Regions from separate parts of the Homo sapiens genome. Here region 2 is linked to region 1. A link means that fine-mapping ties the variant in region 1 to the expression of a gene that starts in the linked region. Tissue or cell type: tibial artery. Region 1 holds a variant in brackets; the other region holds the start of a gene. All regions are shown on one strand. Distances are from middle to middle. Region 1 holds the start of LOC105375521 (a long non-coding RNA gene). Region 2 holds the start of SLC13A4 (solute carrier family 13 member 4).

Region 1 (11,202 bases):
TAACGTTGACTCCCAGGCCAGCTTTCACCTGCAGGACACAAACCAGCACACCCTAGTCACTCTGACCAGCAGCAGCACAGATCCCCAAGTCCCCCTTCTGTTCCTGCAGCCTATGCCTTGTGGCCCAGATTAGTTCCCAGTTGCTGCCTGGGGTGCTCTAGCATTGCCTTGTAGGGTGCACAGGACTGTGGAAAGGCGGGAAAGGGACAATTAGAGTCATCTCCACTTCATGCTTACAGCACTCTCACTAGATTTCAAGTGGAAGCCTAGAAGGTATGTTAGTTACTTGGAACACCCACTCTGTGGAACGTGAAGAGGTATTTCTGCAGCTCACTGATAGGGAAATGTGCTAAACAAAACTAACCAGATCTCTGTAAAGCAGGAACTTCTCAGAGCCCCGATGCGTTAATACAGGGAACTTGTACGAGGGGCTATATTACATGAAGCCTTTGCTACTGTTACCTTTTTTTAAGGAACAGCTCATGGAAATAGTGTACCTTGAGTTCACTTGGGGAAACGGTTTAGCTGCCTCTGCTCAGCTCTTCCTCAAGAAGGGGACACAGGCATGCTAGCTGGAATGGAGCCTTTGCTTCTTTCCTCTGAGGGAATTACACCTCAGTGACTGACCCTTTTCACTTCTGCCTTGACATTGACACCCACAGGCTGAAGTGGGGGATGTGAGAGATGGTGGGCTGGCAGAGCCAGATGGAAAAATGTGTCCTGTAAGGATAGCTGGCATCTTCCCAAGGAGTAACCAGGCATATAGCATGTAGCCAAGACAAGTCACTAGCTGGCATTAAGTTGGGAAAATTGCAAGGGGAAAGTGGATGCTGGGAAATTGTTTCAAGCAAATGGCTAGACGTGTCCTCTCTCTCCTGCCGTCTGGTCGGGGCCCCCTGGGCATTTTGGCATGGAGGACAGCCCATGTTTCCCCACAGGTGAGAGGGCAGGTTCTAGCAGGGCTAAATTAAGGAGTGTTAGAGTTGAAAGGGACCCCATGGAGCATCCAGCTGGAACCTCATCATTTAGCAGATGAGGAAATTGAAGTCAAGGTAGTGCCCAAGCTGGGAATAGTGCCCAAGACTGGCTCACTTCTTGTCACCTGGTACCTTTGAAAATTACTGCCTCTGATCATTTGATTCCAGTGTAGAAAGCTAGGGGTCAGTGGTGGGGGCACACAGCAGAGGAAGCGGGAGACAGGAGAGCTGGGGTAGAGCTCAGCGTGAGCAGACTGAGGGTTACGCAGTAAGATGGGAGGGGAGAGGGATGGCTGGGACACTCCATTCAAGGAAGTATCACGGATGACTTAGATGAGCAGTTCGAACAGTCGAAAGGACCTGAATAGGCTGAGAGCAGTGACTCACACCTGTAATGCCAGCACTTTGGGAGGCCAAGGCAGGCAGATCATCTGAAGCCAGTAGTTCAAGACCAGCCTGACCAACATGGTGAAACCCCATCTCTACTAAAAATACAAAAATTAGCTGGGCATGGAGGCGCACACCTGTAGTCCAAGGTACTCTGGAGGTTGAGGCATGAGAATCACTTGAACCTGGGAGGCAGAGGTTGCAGTGAGCCGAGATCGCACCACTGAACTCCAGCCTGGGTGAGAGTGAGATTCTGTCTCAAAAAAAAAAAAAAAAAAAAAAAAAAAAGGATAAAAAAGGACCTGAATATCTGCCACCAGCCTGAAACTTTTTCTTCCTTTCCTCTATTTGTTACTTTACAGGGCTGCCCGAGAACAAATTTGGCTCCCATGAAAAAAAATTGTCAGACCATCAGTAATTCGTATCAGTGTTTTCCATCCTCTCCCCCCCCGCTCAGCCCTGGATACTAAGTATAGCAGCAGGTGTATAGGTAGAGGAGTAGAAGGTAGATAGGCCCAGTGCTAAAGTCAGCAGCAAAATATCTCAAAGCCATCTTTTGTGAGCCCAGCTGAAAATGAAAATGAATGGTGGACGCTTCATTTTCCATTGTTGCTTCAGGGGTTTCTTGCCTGGGCCGGGGTGGAGGGTGAGTTGAGCAGAAGAATCCTGTTTTCTCAAAATACCTTTCACCCTAGGTTCATACACTTCCTCATTCTCATCTTCTGTGAATAAACCAGTAGCTTTCTCAATGAATGTCTCCACTGGCCTAATGAAGAAACGAAGGCAAAACTTGTTTGCACAGGCTCATGCCTTCTGGAACTGGGCCACAGCCTGTCTGTTCCAGCTTTCTCTACCTAGGTACCCACTTCCTTCCAGGGAAGGGTTGGGGAGAGCACATTCTTGCTATCCTTGGTGCTTATAGACCAACAAAAACCTTTTTATAGGTGCTATTCTTGCTACCACACTGGGTTTAGCATTGACAGGCCAGGGACACTGCTACAAAATAAGCTTTGAAAGAAGGCTGCAGAGCTGTCATCCCTGTCCTCATGGCAGCTGGGCCTGGCAGGGAGAGGGCACCCCAACTCACCATATCTTTGATCTGGCAGTGCCCATAGCTGAAGACGATGGCATTAGGGGGATTGCCCACAGGCAGCATCACTGCAAAGGAGATGCACATGGTGACTGGGATCAGGGTGTAGAGGGGGTTAATGTGCAGCGTTTCAGACTAGAAGAGAGAATTCACAGAAACATTCACGAGATTAGGCTTGCATTTCCTGTGCTTAATGTCAGGAGCATGCTTTAATGATGACTTGGTGCTGGCTAACCTTAGCAGGACACTATGTGGAGGGGTAGTTAGGTCTCTGCCCTCTGGGGCATGCAGTCCCTTGACAACCTGAATAGGCTGATGCTGCTTACTTGCTCCACATGGAAATATGGCTTTGAGTTACTCCCTAGAAGGGATGTTTGATTTTTTTGGTGTTATTCTAAGGAATTGGTTCCTAAACTTTATTCTTTAGCTGAGACTTCCTTTCCTTAAACTCAAATCTCATGAATAGGTTGCTTTGATTGAAGTGGGGATTCCTCAGTCTTAGGGTACAGAACTAAGGTGGTTTTTTTTTTTTTTTTTTCCTAGGGAAGATAATTGTTTTATATGGGATTTGAATCCATGGTCCTGCTCTCAATGTTGCCAAGTTTTAACTGCACTCTGTTGCTCGCAGGAGCAAGATGACGGAAGGGAGAAGTTGGGGTCATCTGAGCAATGAGCAGAGAGTATGGCTCTGGGGTTAGAAAGAGCAGTAGGAGACTATGTTGCTGGGGTCAGGAGGGGCCTTCATTTCCTGGATTCTGCCTCCCAGAATGGGACAGATGAAGCATTGGGTCAGATGCATCACCTTTCCGGCTGCTTGGCCAGGCTAAGATCTGGCCGTTGCTCCCCTCCCTTATTCTATTCACAACAAATTGGTCTGAGGTTGTGGAGCAAAGCTGACCTTGCTCCCAATCCTCAGAACTTCCCGGAGGACAGTGAAACTCAGTGGAGGCTGTGATGATTGTCTGAGTTGTGAGCTCAGTCTTTTCAGCTGTGTGTGTTTTACCTCCATTTTCTGTGGCTACCTCTTTGGCCCTACTCAGGTTTTATCTCAGGAGAGAAAGGTTGATAATGATTGCGGGGAATTGAAATGATAGGGTTTGAATATTATTTTGTATGTTCTTTGGTTTCCACTCAGGGCTGCCCCTAAACTAATCCTACTCTTTTGGACAAAGGTTTCTAGAACTCTTGCTATGATTTATTAGTGTATCTTTTTATTTACTAGTTGCTATTTGAAAAACTTCATTTTTCAAAATAGGAATTGAACACCAATTAGTGAAGGCTGTGGGCAGTAACCAGAGGAGAGCCTACAGCTACGGAAGCTGCCCTGAGCCAGGCCTGCCACTCCAGGCCCCTGGGACAGCCTGTCTGGATGTCTGGGAGCTCCGCATTACTCACCAGGCTGCACAGGATGGGCAGGAAGATGGTGATGGTTGCTGGGTTGCTCACAAACTCAGTGACAATGGACACGAGGATGCATGCCAGCAGGGTGACAGCCCACGGTGGGAGGCTGCTCAGGGACAACATCTGGTTCCCAATCCATGTAGAGAGGCCAGAGCTCTGTAGGAAGAGGTGTTACAGTAAGAAGAAAGGAGAAGAAGCACATCCCAGCTAGAGATCTTAGACTTCAGAAGGTCAGGGATGTTGGAAGGCTGGACGACCAGGGATCCTCTGATCTTTAGTCTGACTGGAACCAGAGGTGTTCCTGATTTTTATGGTTCGATCATTTTTGTAGTTCAGAAAATTGGTTTTTATGATTGCACAACATTCAGTGTTTGGGTTTCGTCATGGGACATGGAGAGCCACCCTAATTGCCATGATCCTTCTTAGGACTTTGCCATGACAACTTGTCAGAGGTTGGAGATCTTTGCTCCTCAACTTCAGTCTCGTTACCCTTTCTCTAGCCTCTGACATCCTTACCCTGTGCATTGATTCGACAATGCCCTTCACAGAGTGCCAAGTATAGCCATTTAATCTGCTTTTGAAACCAGTTTATTTTGTTACCTAAAAAAGGGAAAAATTTATCAACATCTGTGGATAGTAGCCTTTCCTGTGTTTTTAAGGAGATGAACAGGCAGGGCTGAGCACTGGAGGTTTTACAGGAGTAATAAAGTAGAGGGGGATAAAAGTCTATTTCCACTTAGTGGAGAAGGTGCCTCTTAAGTGCCATAGAGGCTGGTCATTCAGCCCCAACCTGTTTTAGGTTCAAATCTCATCATGGCTGACATTAGTTCTACTATCTGTCAGGAATTTTTTTTTAATTAAGAGGAGGGTCTTGCTCTATTGCCCAGGGTCCAGGATGAGTGCAGCAGCATGATCACAGCTCACTGCAGTCTCAACCTCCTGGGTTCAAGCAATCCTCCCACCTCAGCCTTCCAAGTAGCTGGGACCACAGGCACATACCATCACGCCCTGCTCTTTTTATTTGTAGAGACAGAGTCTTTCCATGTTGCCCAGGCCTGTCTCAAACAGACCTGGGCTTAAGCGATTCTCCCACGTTGGTCTCCCAAAGTGCTGGGATTATAGGTGTGAGCCACCGCACCTGGCCTGCCAGTGCTTTTTGAAGACACAGATATGAAGGCATATTGACCGTCCTGAATTTATTCCACTAGCAACAGTTACACACATCCACTTAAATAAATGAACATTCTGGCTGGGTGAGGTAGCTCACACCTGTAATACCAGCACTTTAGGAGGCTGAGGAAGGTAGGTCACTTGAAGTCAGGAGTTTGAGACCAGCCTGGCCAATGTGGTGAAAGCCCACCTTTACTAAAAATACAAAAATTAGCTAGGTGTGGTGGCACGCGCCTGTAATCCCAGCTATTCAGGAGGCAGAGGCAGGAGAATTGCTTGAACCCGGGAGGCAGAGGTTGCAGTGAACCGAGATTGTGCCATTGCACTCCAGCCTGGGTGACAGAGTGAGACTCTGTCTCAAAAAAATAAAAAATAAATGAATAAATATTCCCACTTGGAATGATTCATTTGGTTGGAAGATGTTCACCTGCAAATAGGGAGGGCTACCTCCCTCTCCTAAAAAATGAAAGGTATCATTGAGTTTTGTATTAAAAACTCCAGGTTGCCATATGCATCCTGCCTCCCTTCCTCTCTCTCTTCTATGGTGACAGGCTCTGCCTTTTCCCATGGTACCCTAGAAACTGCGAATGCAATGACAATATGGAGAGCAGGGACAGAAAGGAAGGTGAGACATTTATGATTCCTCAAGCTCTTAAGTCCTGCTACACATGTTTTACTATTAAATACCGCCTTCCCTACACTGCCAGCATGTTACTTTTTCTCCTCTCTTCCAAATTCATCAAAAGCTCATTTCATCTCTACAGTACCCTGGCCACCTCCTGGCAAGCTCATAGACAACTGAGGACCAAAGGCCTTCAGAATTCTCTCTGTTGTAGCCACTTCACCTTGTAGAACTTTTCTTCCTTTTTTTCCTCTCAACTCACTGAGAGCTTACAAACCCAATATGTGCAGACTGCATCAATTAATGCTTGTTTCAGAGCCCCAAGGCCTCCAGGAACTCTTTAATTGTTCCCTCTGGTAACACATTAAACCTTGCTCATTGGACAGAGGCAGGGGAGGAACAGCAGTTAGTTGAATGGAAATGGTACATTATATAAAGAGATGGAGTTTTACTTAA[C/CAT]GTTATCCAAATAGTACTGGTAAGTAAAGTGAAATAATTTTTTTTTTCTTTTTGAGACAGAGTTGTGCTCTGTCACCCAAGCTGGAGTGCAGTGGCACCATCTCAGCTCACTGCAACCTCTGCCTCCCGGGTCCAAATGATTCTCATGCCTCAGCCTCTTGGGTAGCTGGGATTACAGGCATGTGCCACCATCCCCGGCTAAATTTTTTTTTTTTTTTGAGAGGAAGTCTCACTCTGTCGCCCAGGCTGGAGTGCAGTGGTGCGATCTCGGCTCACCACAACCTCTGCCTCCCAGGTTCAAGCAATTCTCTGGCCTCAGCCTCCCAAGTAGCTGGGATTACAGGCGCGTGCCACCACACCCGGCTAATTTTTGTATTTTTAGTAGAGACGAGGTTTCACCATGTTGGCCAGGCTGGTCTCAAACTCCTGATCTCAGGTGATCCACCCACCTTGGCCTCCCCAAGTGCTGGGATTACAGGCATGATCCACTGTGCCCAGTCCCTGGAGTTTTGCTTTTGTCACCCAGGCTGGAATGCAGTGGCACGATCTCGGCTCACTGCAACCTCCTCCTCCTGGGTTCAAGTGATTCTCCTGCCTCAGCCTCCCAAGTAGCTGGGATTAAAAGTGTCCGCCACCACGCCTAACTAATTTTTGTATTTTTAGTAGAGACAACGTTTCACCATGTTGGCCAGGCTAGCCTCAAACTCCTGGCCTCAAGTGATCCTCCTGCCTCACCCTCCTTAAGTGCTGGGATTACAGGCGTGAGTCACCATGCCCGGCCTAGTAAAGTGAAATAATTTATTGGCAATTATTTTTCCAGCAGAACTATTTTATACTATGATTTGAAATAAATTAGACTTCAAAGTTAGACAAAAACACAATCAAAGGAAGTCTTAATTCTTTAAACTCTTGGTATGAAAACATTTTACAATGGATTTTCTTCACTAATGTCAAAACTGAAATTATTTCAAACTCTGTAGGAATCACATATATGCTACCTAAATTATTATTAAAATTAGTAGAGGCAGTAGGCTTTACAGAAATAACTGTACTATCTCTAATATGTGCACAATTTTGTTTTTATTGTTTTTTTTTTGTTTTTGTTCTTGTTTTTTGTTTTGGTGGCAGGGGATAGGGTCTCCCTCTGTCTCCCAGGCTGGAGTGCAATGGTGGGATCTTGGCTCACTGCAGCTTTGAACTCCTGGGCTCAAGCGATCCTCTCACTTCAACCTCCTGAGTAGCTGGGACTACAGGTACGCACCACCACACTGGGCTAACTTTTGTTTTTGTAGAGATAGGATCTTACTATGTTGCCCAGGCTAGTCTCAAACTCCTGGACTCAAGCAATCCTCCCGCCATGGCCTCCCAAAGTGCTGGGATTACAGACATGAGCCACTGTGCCCAGCCCAATTTTGGTTAAAAAAAAAAATAAAATCTTGCCAGGCCAATCTTGTCAGAGGCCAAAACTAACAACTGAAATTCAATAAAGATAAATATAAATATCCCGAACTTGGAATGAGAAATATTGATGGCATATATATAGGATGGGGTGAAGGTCCAGTAATGATGAACAGTTAAAAAGAATGAAGGGTTCTAATTGACTGCAGTTTTAATATAATTGTTGACATGAGTGCCAAGGATGCTTTATAAAAGCTTCCATAAAAATGCAGGGTGCTGCTTGAATCAGAGGTGAGAGATGGGGCTTGGGTAATATAACTACTCTACTTGGCAGTAGACTGACCACCCCATAGACTATGTTTGAATAAGGCCAAGTGTAGTGAGTCCTGAGGAGAGAGACCAGATGGTATGGGTCACTACTACTTGATTTTTTCATGTTAATAATTATTATCTAGGAGAGGGTCCCAGAGAACAGAGCTAGAGCCAACAGTGGACAGACAACATGCAGAAGACCTGAGCTGAAAATAAGGAACAATTATTCTTTGTTCCCTGCCCAGGGAGTACCTTGTCACTGGAAGTGTCCAAGCCAGAAGTGCCATGGAGGGGAATCTCACCATGGGCAGGAGATAGGACTCATTGTTTTCTAAGGTTCTCCTTAGTGGAGTATTCTGTGACCTTATTATTAATAATGCAGATAGTATTTTGGGCCATGAAAAGTGAACCAAGCCGGGCACAGTGGCTCATGCCTGTAATCCCAGTACTTTGGGAGGCCAAGGTGGGTGGATCACTTGAGGCCAGGAGTTCAAGACCAGCCTGGCCAACATGGTGAAACTCCATCTCTACTAAAAATACAAAAATTAAGCTGGGTGTGGTGGCGTGTGCTTGTGATCCCAGCTATTTGGGAGGCTGAGGCATGAGAATTGCTTGAACCTGGGAGGCAGGGGTTGCAGTGAGCAGAGATGGCGCCACTGCACTCCAGCCTAGGTGACAGAGTGAGACTCTGTCTCAAAAAAAAAAAAAAAAAAAAAAAAAAAGAGAACCAAGTTTAGCATGGGATAATGCATGTAGATGAGATGGAGGGAGAAATAGTCTGAACCTTAACCTAATTCATTCTTAAGATTGTTTTCTATTTTATGGAGGGCTAACACTTTAGGAAATTCAATCATCCCCTCACATCCCCACCCCACTTAAAAGATCTCATCCAAAATCCTCCCAGTCAGAAAATCAAGAAGCATTTACATCAGCTTTAGCCTAGATTTTCCAAAGGGGCTCAGTCTATGTATTGTGGACAGACAGTTCACCATGTGTCACTTGGAGCATCTCTGGTCCCTTACAGAGATCGCCTATTACCACTCCTATTACCTATTACCTATGTCTATCTCCTGTTACCATCTCCTATTGCCACTGTCAAATCCCAGAAGGAGATGGCTGCAAACTCCAATAAACCTTTTGCTTGTAGCAGCATGGGCCCCATAGATGAACTATCAATGCCCATGTGTCATGACTGTGTGGCACAGCCCATCTGTTCCTCTGTTCCTAGTAGCGCTGAGAAGCTTAGGGCAGCAGAGGACATCCATCCTGCTCTATTGTTTCCCTTCCCAGGGACTCTGTGAACATTCTCAGCTGCTTTGAGTCTTTCCTCCCATGCCCATAATGACTCATTAGGTAAAGATGCTGGAAAAGTATTTGACCCATAAGAACAGAATTCAAGCCGGGTGCAGTGGCTCATGCCTGTCATCCCAGCATTTTGGGAGGCCGAGGCAGGTGGATCACTTGAGGTCAGGAGTTTGAGACTAGCCTGGCCAACATGGTGAAACCGCGTCTCTACTAAAAATACAAAAACTAGCTGGCATCATGGTGCACGCCTGTAATCCCAGCTACTTGGGAGGCTGAGGCAAGAGAATCGCTTGAACCCAGGAGGCGGAGGTTGCAGTGAGCTGAGATTGTGCCACTGCACTCCAGCCTGGGTGACAGAGCAAGACTGTCTCAAAAAAAAAAACCCCAAAAAAACAGAATTCAAGAATTACCTTGCTACCAGAAGCCAGAGCATAGCCTCCCCCAACCAGAATGACAATCTCCCAGGGCATGGTCTTCTGGAAGTCCTTCCACGTGATGATGGGCTCGGTCCCCAGTGAGTGCTCCTGGTTCTCTCCTGGATTAGAGAGAGATGTAAAGCCAGATAAACCCTGATGGACGTGATTTGTGGAGACAGGAGCCTAATTGGTGAAGTGGATGATTTGGGATACTGCTATTTGGGGCGGGGGCCGGGAGGGGGGTGGGAATCTGAAGGACCTTGGTAAATCTCTTTGGGAGTATTAGTCTGATTTGGGTATTCTTCAACTAGAGCTACCCCCAGTTTCTTCCCTTCTCTCACCATCATTCTTTTTCCCAAAGCAGGGCTTCTTCGCTGGAATGAGGAAGAGGAGGAAGCCAAGGAAGACAGAGACTGTGGCATCAGTACGGTAGCCTTTCCTAGTAAAGAGACAAGCATAGCTGAGGAGAAGGGTCAGGAATTTTCAGGAGTAACATGATGTCTCGGAGCAGTCTGTCCGAACACAGTGCCTCTTTTTAGGACTTATCTAGAGGTAACATTAAGCTTAGTTCTTGCCAGTTGCTGCCACGCTATCCACTTTGGATTTAATGGGCAATGGCGAATGTCTGGAGGCAGGGCCTGGCTAGAGTAGATGTCTTAATGTGAATTTGTGAGCCCGTTAATTGGGGCAAGTCCTAGATGGAGTGATCAGGAGTGGAGTTGGTTAGATAAAGGAGAATAGAAGAGGATGAGACCTCTTTCCTATGAAGGCCACACCTCCATGTGCCTCCCTTCTCAAGTGAGAAGTTGATTTCTTCTTTACAGTTGGTACTTTATAGATGTTTCCTCCTTTAACTTTCATAACCACCTATGAGGTAACCAAGCTTCCAAGAGCTTATGTAATGAGACTACATGCAGCACTGGATTCCAACCCCAGACCGGGACTCCAAAGAGTGTTTTTCCTTCCTGATTTCACACTGCAGCCTCCCTAAAAAGAGTGGATTTCCTGGGGAATGAAATCTTCCTGGCTTCATATCTGCCCCTGAGAGTCTATGAAGTCTTGCCTGAAGAATTGGGGTGAGGGGGTTGTTCTTAAGGAGGAAATGATATCACTTACTTTTCAAAGAAAGAATCCCAGCCAGGGACAAAGCCAGGCTCCCGGGTAAACCACAGTACGGTCATCAGGATGAAGAAAAATCCAGTCACCATTTCTGGGTAGCTATAAAATAAAACAGAAAGACCCACTCAGGAACTGAGAAATTTCTCCTAGCTTTTTCACTTTGCTTCTGGAAGCTTCTGTATTTAGAGTTTCAATACCCTAGACATAAAACACACTCACTGCCTAACCACTATGAATGGCTGACAGTGAGATGAGGAGAAGACTGAGTGGCCCCAGAAAACATGACATTAACCATGTTCCTGGAGAAACTTCAGTAGAAAGGGCAAGAGAACACAGCACTGTACATTTGTAAAATAATTTCAAATACAGCCTACAAGGAGAGTGCAGTGAAATAGGCAGCCCCAAACACTGTGCTGGTGGGAGGAGGAATTGCTACAACCTTTTTGAGGCCATTTGATGATACACATTAGAAGCCTTAAAGTTGGTCATTCCCTGGCTGGGTGTGGTGGCCCACGCCCGTAATCCCAGCACTTTGGGAGGCCGAGGTGG
Region 2 (11,202 bases), 40 kb after region 1:
AGCTCGGAGGGTTCTGGAAACTGCCAAGGTGGGGACTGAACTTAACTGCAGTGACCAGACCCATGATCACAAAACCATACAAGTGGAGTTCAAAGCTTTAACTTGGACTGGGATGTAATTGGTGTTAAGTTGACTGGATATTAGAAGTTCTTGGGGTAGTTGGAGATAGGAATCACTATGTGTGGTGGGGGCTGGGGCTTGCACTTGTAATCCCAGGACTTTGGGAGGCCAAGGTGGGAGGATCACTTGAGCCCAGGAGTTTGAGACCAGCCTGGGCAATATATAGCAAGACCCCATCTCTAAAAAATAAAATATAAATTAGCCAGGTGTGGTGGCACAGGCCTGTAGTCCCAGCTACTTGGGAGGCTGATGCCAGAGGATCACTTGAGCCCAGGGGCTTCAGGCTGCAGTGAGCTATGATCATATGCCATTGCACTCCAGCTTGGACTACAGGACTATAGAGTACAATGCTGTCTCAAAAAAACAAGCAAACAAACAAAAAAAACAGTTCGTTCACATGTGAGCTCTGAGATCAGTCATCCTGAGTTTGACACATGTGCCTAAGATATGAAGATATGTGGCATTGGTGTGTGCCTGACTGAAGAGAAGTGGATCAGTAAGAAGTGAGATTTATAAACAATCCAAAAGGTGGCTTCTGGACTGTGCTCTTACAGCCCTGGGCATCTGGGGTGTGTCTCAAGAATATACCAGGGGGATCAGCAAGGCCTGGAATCTGGACCCCCTCTCCAGCCTCATCCCAAATGGAGTAGCTTTGTTCTCATTTGATTCATATACGAACATTACATGTGAGATTTGAAAAAAAAAAAGCTTTATTGCTTTAAAAATGAATAAACAAAGTTAAATCCCCCTGTTTTAGACTATTTGCTGAAACAACTTGATTCAGTAGTAAATTTTAATCAAATAAATTATTAGGCAACTTGAAGAACTGGTTGACCATTTCCCCCTTCAATTTTGGATCTGAGGTCCTACCATGTTTTGCATCTAGAGACTGAATCCTTCTCCCAAAGGCCCCTGTAAGAGTTAATAAGGAGCTCCCTTCCCTGGGAGAGGGAAGGGAAGACTGAAGAGGAAGGCAGCGATCCTGAGCATGGAACTCTCATTTTGGATGAAGAAGCATCAGCTCCTAACTCAGTGTTTGTCAACCTTCGTACTACTGACATTTAGGGCCACATAGTTTCTTCTTGCAGGGGGGCTGTCCTGTGCACTGTAAAAGAGCAGCATCCCTGGTCTCTACCCACTAAATGCCGGTAGCACTTCCTCCACTGTGACAAGCAAAAAACCATCTCTAGACATTGCCAAATGTCCCTTGGGGAGGTAAAATGATTCCTGGTTGAGAGCCACTGCCCTAACCAGGGTCTGGTTCTCGTTGCTCTTGGACTCCATTCTATCCGCTTGACACCATGGAAACATCCATCTACAAAGACTGAAGACAGCCATCTATCTGGAAGGGGAGGCCTGGACATTCACCAGCATTTTCCATAGCCCACTCACTTTGCTGGCTGGACAACCTAGGGGTGCACAGGGTAATTAAGTACAACATTCTTATCAGAAGCCAGCCCTCCATCAGCTTGCCCTCTAGTTGTGTTGATTGCCCTGAATTATGCTGATGAACGCTGTTAAGACAGGTTACCGCCTTACTCTAGGGAGAGGCTGCAGTTCATGGGCCTTGTTAATGGTAACATCACCAAGCTCCGTGACTCAGAAGAGCATTTATAGAAAATCCAAGTTGGCTGTGGGATCCTCAATTTTTACATAGTTGTAAACCATCAGGACTCGTGTCTGATTTGCCCTGAGGCTGGCTGCTGATCAAGGAACCTGACAAATCTTGCTGTTTATGGCCCCTTGAGTTCAGAACACGCGTCCTCAAACTCTTGCATAAAAGTTACAAAAGGTCGCTGTATCAGTAAGGGGCAGCAGGAGTGATTAAATCAGCTGGGCTGGCAAGGACCTTGTGCCCTCCTGACATTCGTGGATTATGGGATTGGGGTTTGAGAAATGGGAACTGGGCCCAAAAGTTGACTGTAGCTCCCCACTGAGATGTTCTCTGGGGCCAAAAGATCAGAGGGAAGATAAAACTTTTGGAAGTGCTGATAAGACAACAGAACCAATGGTGGAAAAAAAAAGAGGCTCCACTTGGAAACAAATTCAATTTAGAGAAATACCCTGTTTGCTATAGAAATAAAACTACCTAAAGGAGTTCAAACCCACGTGTTCTCATCTCTCTTCTGGGAAAGAGACAGAGTGGCAGATCTTAACTCCAGTTGAAGAGAAAGAGTTGAGAGACAAAATGTCTGCCCCTCACTGGGGACCCTTATTTCTTCCTGGAACCCTTAGTCTTTCTTGATCTGGTCATTACAGGGCTACAAGTTACAAGTTAAGGGGAAGGAGGTGGGGAGAGAAGGTGCAGAGAAAGGGAAAGGAGAAAGAGGAAAAGAGCCTGTAATCCCAGCACTATGGGAGGCCGAGGTGGGTGGATCAGTTGAGGTCAGGAGTTCGAGACCAGCCTGGCCAACATGGCGAAACCCTGTCTCTATTAAAAATACAAAAAATTCATCCAGGTGTGGTGGCACATGCCTGTAATCCTAGCTGCTCTGGAGGCTGAGGCAGGAGAATCCCTTGAACCCGGGAGGCAGAGGTTGCAGTGAGCCAAGGTTGTGCCACTGCACTCCAGAGCCTGAGTGACAGAGTGAGACTCTGTCTCAGAAAAAAAAAAAAAAAAAAAAAAGAAGAAAGGAGAGAGAGAGAAAGAAAGAGGACTTTCCCTCTGCCAGGTGCCTTTAGTTTTCAATTAGGAGAATGTGGGTAAAATAAAGCAAACATTTTGGTTGTAAATATTGTTAGACATGCGACTAGGTTACTGGAAGAAGTAAGTCATCAGGCCACCTTCACCCAGCTGTATTAAGGACAGGATTAATTACTATCATTTTTTACCTGGATTTTCCTTAGAGTAGAAGAATGGACAAGAGACACCTTTAGAGAGTCTTTCCATACAGTTTCCACTTATTTCACCCATGGAATCTCCATAAACTTCATTTTTCCCCTTCTAAAGCTTCCCAAAATTCAGGAGGTAAGCTTGTATTCAGACAACCAAAAATACTGCAAAGTTTGCTTACAAGGAGTCCGATGTCCCCAACGCCTATCCCATGTCTAGCAGGTGGTTCAATTCACGTGGGCTGAACTGCACTGGACTTCTCTGCTGGCTGTCAGGTCTCGCTCATCTTCTGGAGAGAATATTCTGCAACCCCCAGGCTCTTTAACAACACCACTGGTTCCTTATAATAGCAGGTATGTGGGGGTTGGGCATTGGTGAGTGTTCAGACAATATCTTCAAGGGACATGCTATCTACTATTTTTTGGCTCCCGTTTACAAGTAAAGGAAAGAGTTCGAAAGTGGCATTTCCCCATGTAGGACGTTTCCTAGTCAGCTACTCACTTAGGCGTGGAACTGCTCGTTTTCCACGCAGTTTGACCACCCCAGTGATATCCCACTCCAACTTCACGGGAAGGAGGTTGAAGTCTGTTATCTGTTATCATCAATGACTGGGGGCGCCTTTTAAAAAATTTAGCTTGGGCAGTTGAGATGCAACTTTTATCCCACTGGGGGCACTGAGGAAGGGCTTAGTTATGGATGCTGTCTCTTGTACCCTCTTCTTCTATAACATGATAAACAGTGTCTGGACCTCTAGTTTTAGAGAGTTGGGCAAGAAAAAGGGGGAAGGTCATTTTGACTCCTCCTAAAATGTAGCTGAGGCTTGTCGCTTAGAACCATCAAAACTGCAGGCCAGGAGCTCCTGCCCAGGTACTCCATCACTGCTCTCAACTCCAGTCCAGAGCAAGAAAATCCATTTGGAATTTTAAGGGTTAAATATCAGACTCTAAAAGTTTGATGCAGGCCAGGCACGGTGGCTCACACCTGTAATCTCAACACTTTGGGAGGATCACGTCAGACCATGAGTTTGAGACCAGCCTGGGCAACATAGTGAAACCCCCATTTCTACAAAAAAAATTTTTTTAAAAATTAGCTGCATGTGGTGGTACTTGCTTGCCTGTAGTCCCAGCTACTCCAGAGGCTGAGGCACGAGGATTGCTTAACCCCAGGAGCTCAAGGCTGCAGTGAGCTACGATTGTGCCACCGCACTCCGGACTGGGTGACAGAGTGAGACTCTGCGTCTACAAAAAAAAGTTTGATGAAAGGGGTGACGGATGGATGAAACTCTACCTGCTGGGCACCTAGTCTGTGCCTTCTGTGGGCAGTGGCCAAGGTCCCCAAAGATGGGGCTGCCTCAACCAGGAGATATGAGAGGTTCCTGATACTGCTTGGGAGAGGAGGCTAGTATGTCTCTCGGTAACAGTCCCTTATAGCAACCTACATGGAGAAAAAACAAAAACAAGAAAAGCCACAAAAAGAAAAAAAATCAGGCCCATTTGGACAAAGCAGAAAATTGACTAGGGTACAGTCCAGGAAGAATGTCAGCAGCAATCACTGTCTGCTAATCCCAGCCCAGTTTTAATCAGCGTCTCCCTGGCACTCTGGAGTATTTATTCTATGAAAGATTTAAGCCAGTTTGTTTTTAAGAAGAACCATCCTAATCCCCTCTGTTTAACTGTTTAACTTAATCTTGGTTACCAAGTTACTTAAGGAGCAGAGTGGAAGAATTGCTCCCCCTCCTACAAACGTGATTAACCTGTTTTAGCTTATTTTTCCTAAAGTCTCCAGGGCAGTGCCAGCTGGGGGAAGGGGACAAGCCACAGACAGGAGGAAGAGAACAGCGGAGGGAAGGGAAGGGAAGCAGGTGACCACCAGGAGGGTGTGACAGGCAAGCTGGATGCTGAGCCAGAGCTGAGGTTCCTCTGTTCTCACAAACCAGGTGAAGAATGAGGTCACGGGCTAGAGTTTGGGGGCTCTTATCTCTTTTTTATCGTGTCACTTTTTGTCTGTCCTTCAAGAGGACAGAGAAGAAAACACAGAAGACACAAATAATTCAAGGCCACGTGCATGGGAGCAGGGCAGCCTGCTAAGTTCTGCTTTCATTCCTTCCCTAAACATTCATTCCCTGAAGTTGATAGGCGCCTTCGGGATTAGAGCTTCAACTGTGGTCATCGAAGCCCACCAGGACACGACCACAGACCACGGATTGGCTCCACGGTTCTCTTCCTCCCCCAACCTTCTCCTCAGTGCCACTATTGGGAGCTCTTTCTGTGTCTCCAGGGGCTCTCAGATAACCAGGGTCCCAGGTGAACTCCCGACAAACACAGGTGCACCATGTCGTTTGCATGGGTGTCGCTGGCCCCCGCTGCTGGGGCAGGCTGGCCTGCTGCTTGGTGCAACACCCATCAGTCACTTCTGCCAAGGCCCCTACTCTGTCCTGACCCCGGTGGGGGCCATGGGGTTGGGGGAATGGGACTGGGATAGGAGATGAACATGACAGCTTTTAGGAAGAAGATATCTTGGTTTCCTCTGGAAAAATCCTTCCATTTCTTTAAACCCACCACAAGCCACTTTGAGGGACTGCCTGAGCGCCCCATGTTCCCCTACCGACCTCCCCTCTTTGCCCTCCCACTGACTCCCAGACCCCCGGTGGGCGCAGGTCGGTACTCACGCTGCTGGGGTGGAGGACGGGCAGAGGCAGCAGCAGGAGCGGGACGCAGACGACCAGCAGCAGCTTCCGGACTCGGAGCAGGCCCTGCAGCAGGCCCATCGCGCCTCTGTCCTCTCCAGCTCGTCCTTGGACCCCGCTCTGCCGGCGAAAGGCTTCCTGCCTGGGCACTGCTCTCTATCCAGAAAGACTTCTTAAACCTTTCTTGGCTTCCGAGAGTCCTCCTTCGTCTTGGGGGCAGAACGGGAGGGCAGTTATACCCTCGCTGTTTCTACAAGAGGCTGGGCTCCTGGCCTCCTGCTTTAGGTGGGATTGATGAGCATCGTTTTGTGACCAGCAAAAAGGAACTGGGAAAGGATGATAAACGGGGGCATAGTGGGCCTCCTCTCGGCTTGATTAGTAATAGAGTAACTTCATTCTAGGTGTCAGCAGAAACCCCCTTAATCCTTTAAGCCACACCTTTGCTGCTGCTGCTCGGCCTTGAAGAAATCATTTAAAAGCTTAAAAACATTAAAAACGCTCAGAGCACATTGTGCTCTCCATCAGTTTTCCTCCCTCGGATGACCTATTTTGGGGAGTACCTGTTTCATCTCCCACCTGGGCTCGCTGTTGGTAAGACTCTAGTAGCCCCTTTCCTTAAAACAAGCACCTGAGCTTGTCAGAGTTGCATGCGGACTTCAGGTGGGGCTGCTGGTCGCTCCCAGGACGTGGTACCTTAACTCTGTTCACATGTCTTTCCCTCAAATTGGTTCCCTACTTATAATTTGCCTTGAGCCTGGGCCTGCAAAGCAGAAAAGAAAAGTCCCCAAGACATTCCTTTTTATCAAAGGACAAAACTTGCTGGAGGCCCACCTTTAACTTTCATCCACCAATGGGAAGCCGGGACAGAGACAGTAGCTCCGCCCACTTCTCAAAGCCAATCAGCAAATTGAAAAGAATGAGTCAATTTCTCTCCCCGCGGCCGCTCTTGATTGGTCACAGCGGGGGCCTGCTGATTCCGCAGAACCTAGGCAGCCTGCTAAGCTTATTTTTCAGTTTCTCAAACTTCCTAGGGCTGGAGTGATGACCATCATCGTAAACATAATCTCACGTACCCAAGCACAGCTTTATTGTTTCGGATCATAGGACACAGAGCTTTCGCTGGGAGGGCCACCTGCTGATCTAGACCTTGGGAAGGGAATGTGCCTGGTGGCAGGGAGAAAATGCAACATTACTTCTGGAGAATTTGCCTCAGAGTGTACAAAGTTAAGCCTTTCAGACCTCCCTGCTGGCAAAGATCGTTTGCCTCAGCACCGAGGGGGGAATATAAAGGGTCTAGGCCAGCAGAGGGTATGAGCTCGTGAGAAAGACCCCAGATCTTTTGGGAAGTATAGCTGCCTCCCTGGCAAAGTCTAGATGCCAGTCTCATGCCCAGATGTCAGTGGTCTCTCTGGCTAAAGTAGGTGCTCAAATGCTTCTCTCTGGGGCTCTCCAAAAAGGAAACCGAAGACCTTCTTTGGCTGGTACGAAAGGAGGAGGTGGGAGGGCAGGGAAGAAGTTGACAAGTTCAGGGACAAGGTCTTAGCTGCAGTTGAACTCTGGAATTTCTCCTGTTTACAGATTGGAAGAAGTTGTTAGCTTCTTTTCTCAGAACGGACATGTGGATTTGGGGCAAGGAAGAAAAGCAAAAGCAAAAGCCCAAACATTCTGTAAGTAGTGGTTCTTGGCAACATTACCTTACCTTGATCTGGGAGATGCTGAGCAGAGTCAAAGGGTTATAAAACCCATGTTGTCTTGAATTCACAGAACACAGGAATGGCGTTCGAAGATCTGCAACTATACTACTTGGAAATGATCCCCAGGCTAAAGTGACCAGGGAAGTGACCCAAAAAACAAATTCTTCTTGACTTTTAAGGCAGGTGCAACTGTGGACAGCTGAGGTCCCCTTTGAAATTATCTTGCCATCGTAGGATGGGCTAGGATGACTCAACTCTTTAAATGCATGTTAAAGACTGGCTACTGTATTTACTACATTCTGGCCTCATTTTTTTTTGGTTATGATTTTGAAACTCAGAATGAACAATACCACGTGTGTGATGTTTTGGTCGCAAACATTAAAGACAGCGAATAATTATAAGCAGCTGTGGAAGTCAACATCCACTGTTAAACCCATGAACCATTCCAAATTCCTCGGTGAGATACTCTGAGATAACAAAGATTCCAGTGAGCAACTCAATCATGACATCTTTATTATACCATAGATGAATATTTGTTAAATAAAAATAGGTACAGCAAGTGTACAATAAGACCAGTAGTTCTCCTTCAGAACTCTACCCATTTTTCAGAGGAAGGAAACACTTTTCCAGAATACAATGCTCAAGAAATGTAAGCCAGATCCCGCTTGTATGAGGTATCTTAAGTAGTCAGACTCTCAAAAACAGAAAGCAGAATAATGGTGCCAAGAGCTGGGGCAGGCAGGGGGAAGGGGAAAAGAGGAGTTGTTCGGTGGGTATAGAACTTCAGAATTACAAGATGAGAAAGTTCCGGGGGTCTGTTTCACAACATGCATGGAGTTAACACTGCTGTACCATATGCTTAAAAATGGTTAAGATGGTACATTTTACCTGATGTGTTTTTTACCACAATAAAAAAAATAAGATTGAAATGGATTAGGAAAGTAAGGGGTGTTGTAAAAAGTCATTTAACAAGCATTTGATTTTAGACCATTGGACCTGCAGAAATACTTTGATTTGTTAGATTCAAGGTGAGGTGACAGAGCAATGAAGTCTGCAGCAGTTAAATGTCTGTTGATGTCTCTTGAGTGACATTGGAGATAGCTGTGAGGATGCCAACGATGGAGGAAACTTAGAAAGTTTTTAGATCCTGGGCCAGGCACGGTGGCTCACGCCTGTAATCCTAGCATTTTGGGAGGCTGAGGCAGGTGGACCACTTGAGGTCAGGAGTTTGAGACCAGCCTGGCCAACATGGTGAAACCCCATCTCTGCTAAAAATACAAAAAAATTAGCAGGGCATGGTGACGTGTGCCTGTGGTCCCAGCTACTTGGGAGGCTGAGGTGGGAGAATCGTTTGAACACTGTAGGCGGAGGTGCCACTGCACTCCAGCCTGGGTGACAGAGCGAGACTGTCCCAAAAACAAACAAACAAAAACAAAACAAAAAAACCCACAAAGTTTTTAGATCCTAAAATTTGTCAGCAGAAATGGTTACATAAGTCATGGGCAAGTTTCCACCACAAACATCACACTCCCATATTATTCTAATAGTAATTATAACCAAATGTGACCCCTTCGTGACTGTAGTTGTATAGAGTGTGGCACTAATGAGGCAAAATAGGAGACCCTGTTTGTCTGTCTAGTCTACATTTCTACTACTCCTTGGGCAAAGAATAGGGTTTTTTGGCTGCTGGTGGTGATCATAATATTTGATTCTGCATGTCAGTGAAATCATTGTCATAAAACTCTCTGTGGGTAAACAATGATCTGCATTCAGATTAAAATAGTTTTTAAGACTCTAGTTACTGAAAATGAGTCTTCATTTGTCTTTAAAAAGGTCATGTCCTTCTTTTTTCTATTTTTTTTTCAGTCATTGATTGCCACAAAAATTCAAGCCCCAATTTGTGTTTAATTTTTTTGTTGCTGGGTGAATGTTCCTGGGAACCATCTTCCCATTCATGGATTTCTTACTACTGGGAGCAGCCATCTACATAACATGGTGGTCAGGGACTACAAGGGTGGGCCTTTCCATCTGATGATTCTGAGTACAAGAAAGCTTTCAGATCCATTGTCAAGGGAGTGGAGCCTCGGGGCGGGATACAAGACTGACTATCAGGGTATTGCACAGTGTCTAGGGACTGAGGCCATTGCTAATCCACTCCCCATCTGACATCTAGGAAAAGTACAAACTGTGAAGATAGGCTACCATGTTTATCTGCCTCTGGCCGATCCCAACGCTGTCTGTACACTGACTTGTGTTTTACTTAGACAATGATACCCAGAGAAGACTGACAGACAGTGAGTGTTAGAGTGTGGGTCAGCAGAGATAGAGCAAAAGTCAAGCAGAAGAGTCTTGGAGATGCATCAAAAAACAGATACAGAGATATTTGGAATTGGGCCCAAATATACAGCAGCAGAGATACCAACTAAAATAAAAGAAAGAAAGACAGAGACAAGCAGAGTGACCATGTCAGAGAGAATATGTACATTTAGAAAAAGAAAGATTGAACAAAAAAAGCATATATCAGAATCTGCATTTGGAGGAGGTAAAAGAGCAGAATGGTCAGGGAATGAGAAAGAGAAACTGAGACTTACTAATCTTCTGAGCCTGAGAATATCAGGATGCAAAGCTGTGTTTTTCTCTGATGATGAATACCTTCTTCCAGTGTCCTAGTATTTCTCCAAAAAGATCATGCGGCTAGCACTGCTATGCAAAGCTTATTTGCTCAAAGATTTTGAAGGAGTCCAGACCTCATCATTATCAAATGACAACTGTTAAATACCCATTTCAGAATCAAATTTAGCCCAATAAATCCTCACTCATTCAAAGATCAGACTTGTTGCAGCTTTTGCTTGCTGAGCTCAGCTGTAAACTTAGGAGAAGACAGAAAGATCTCTGAGCTAATGAGGAATCCTTATTAGGACCCAGACGCTCGACCCCTAGCAGAGGACTTCATCTATTAACTCTTATTTAACATAGAATTATAACAAACCTGGCTATCGTAGTTTGTAGGCAATGGCCAGCTAAGAAAGAACAGACTGTGAAGGGCAAGTTACATTGGTAACAAAGAAAAATATGCTCTAATAGCCTGACAGTGAGGGAGGCAGCAGGGAAACTCAGAACTGAACACAGAATGAGCAGTCTGGGACCTCTCAGGGTTGGTACAAACAGTTGAGCTGACTTCTTAGATCCAGGTGCTCTCCTTGTGGCATCTCACAGTTAAAGGATTGTAGGAACTTCATAGGTAGAAGTCTTAGAGATTATCTTATCCAACTCCTTCATTAGAATGTTTAAATGATGACATGGTCGGGCGCAATGGCTCTCGCCTATAATCCCAACACTTTGGGAGCCTGAGGCGGGTGGATCACTTGAGGCCAGAAGTTTGAGACCAGCCTGGCCAACATGGCGAAAAACTGTCTCTACTAAAAATACAAAAATTAGCCAGGTGTGGTGGTGCGCGCCTATAGTCCCAGCTACTCGGGAGGCTGAAGCAGGAGAATCGCTTGAACCCGGGAGGCAGACACTGCAGCGAGCCGAGATAGTGCCACTGCACTCCAGCCAGGATGGCAGAGCGAGACTCCATCACACACACACACACACACACACACACACACACACACACACACACACACACAAGAATGTTTGAATGATGATCTTACACTAAACAAAAGCTTAAGGTGATTTGTATATATAGTTTAAAAAGATATCGAGTCAATATCTATAAAAGGAAAGTTTTGGCATTTGAAAGGGTAGAATTCTGTCATCTGAAAATCATTTTTATTTGGAGCATTTAGTTGTCTGATGATGCTAAATTATTTTTGCATGAAGACAGACAGGCACGGGCCTACATGCCACCTTGTTCGTTGGGAGAC

The links. PIP is the estimated chance that this variant, and not a neighbour inherited with it, causes the effect. A credible set is the group of variants that fine-mapping cannot tell apart.
Region 2: it holds the start of SLC13A4, and the variant in region 1 is the best candidate, but not a certain one, in a credible set for the expression of SLC13A4 in tibial artery (GTEx, PIP 0.55).

Annotation. Positions count from the first base shown.
Region 1 is chr7:135,681,673-135,692,874 of GRCh38, forward strand. It overlaps SLC13A4 (solute carrier family 13 member 4), which reads right to left. Exons shown (of 16, transcript NM_001318192.2): 11 at 10,651-10,752; 12 at 9,876-9,973; 13 at 9,529-9,653; 14 at 3,850-4,011; 15 at 2,452-2,589; 16 at 1-28. LOC105375521 (a long non-coding RNA gene) reads left to right here and starts at 5,339. Exons shown (of 5, transcript XR_928021.3): 1 at 5,339-5,650; 2 at 7,232-7,356; 3 at 9,899-10,086. The variant C/CAT (reference allele first, on the strand shown) is at 6,104.
Region 2 is chr7:135,721,777-135,732,978 of GRCh38, forward strand. It overlaps SLC13A4 (solute carrier family 13 member 4), which reads right to left and starts at 6,410. Exons shown (of 16, transcript NM_001318192.2): 1 at 5,622-6,410. The coding sequence starts at 5,720. It overlaps FAM180A (family with sequence similarity 180 member A), which reads right to left. Exons shown (of 4, transcript NM_205855.4): 4 at 7,816-8,505.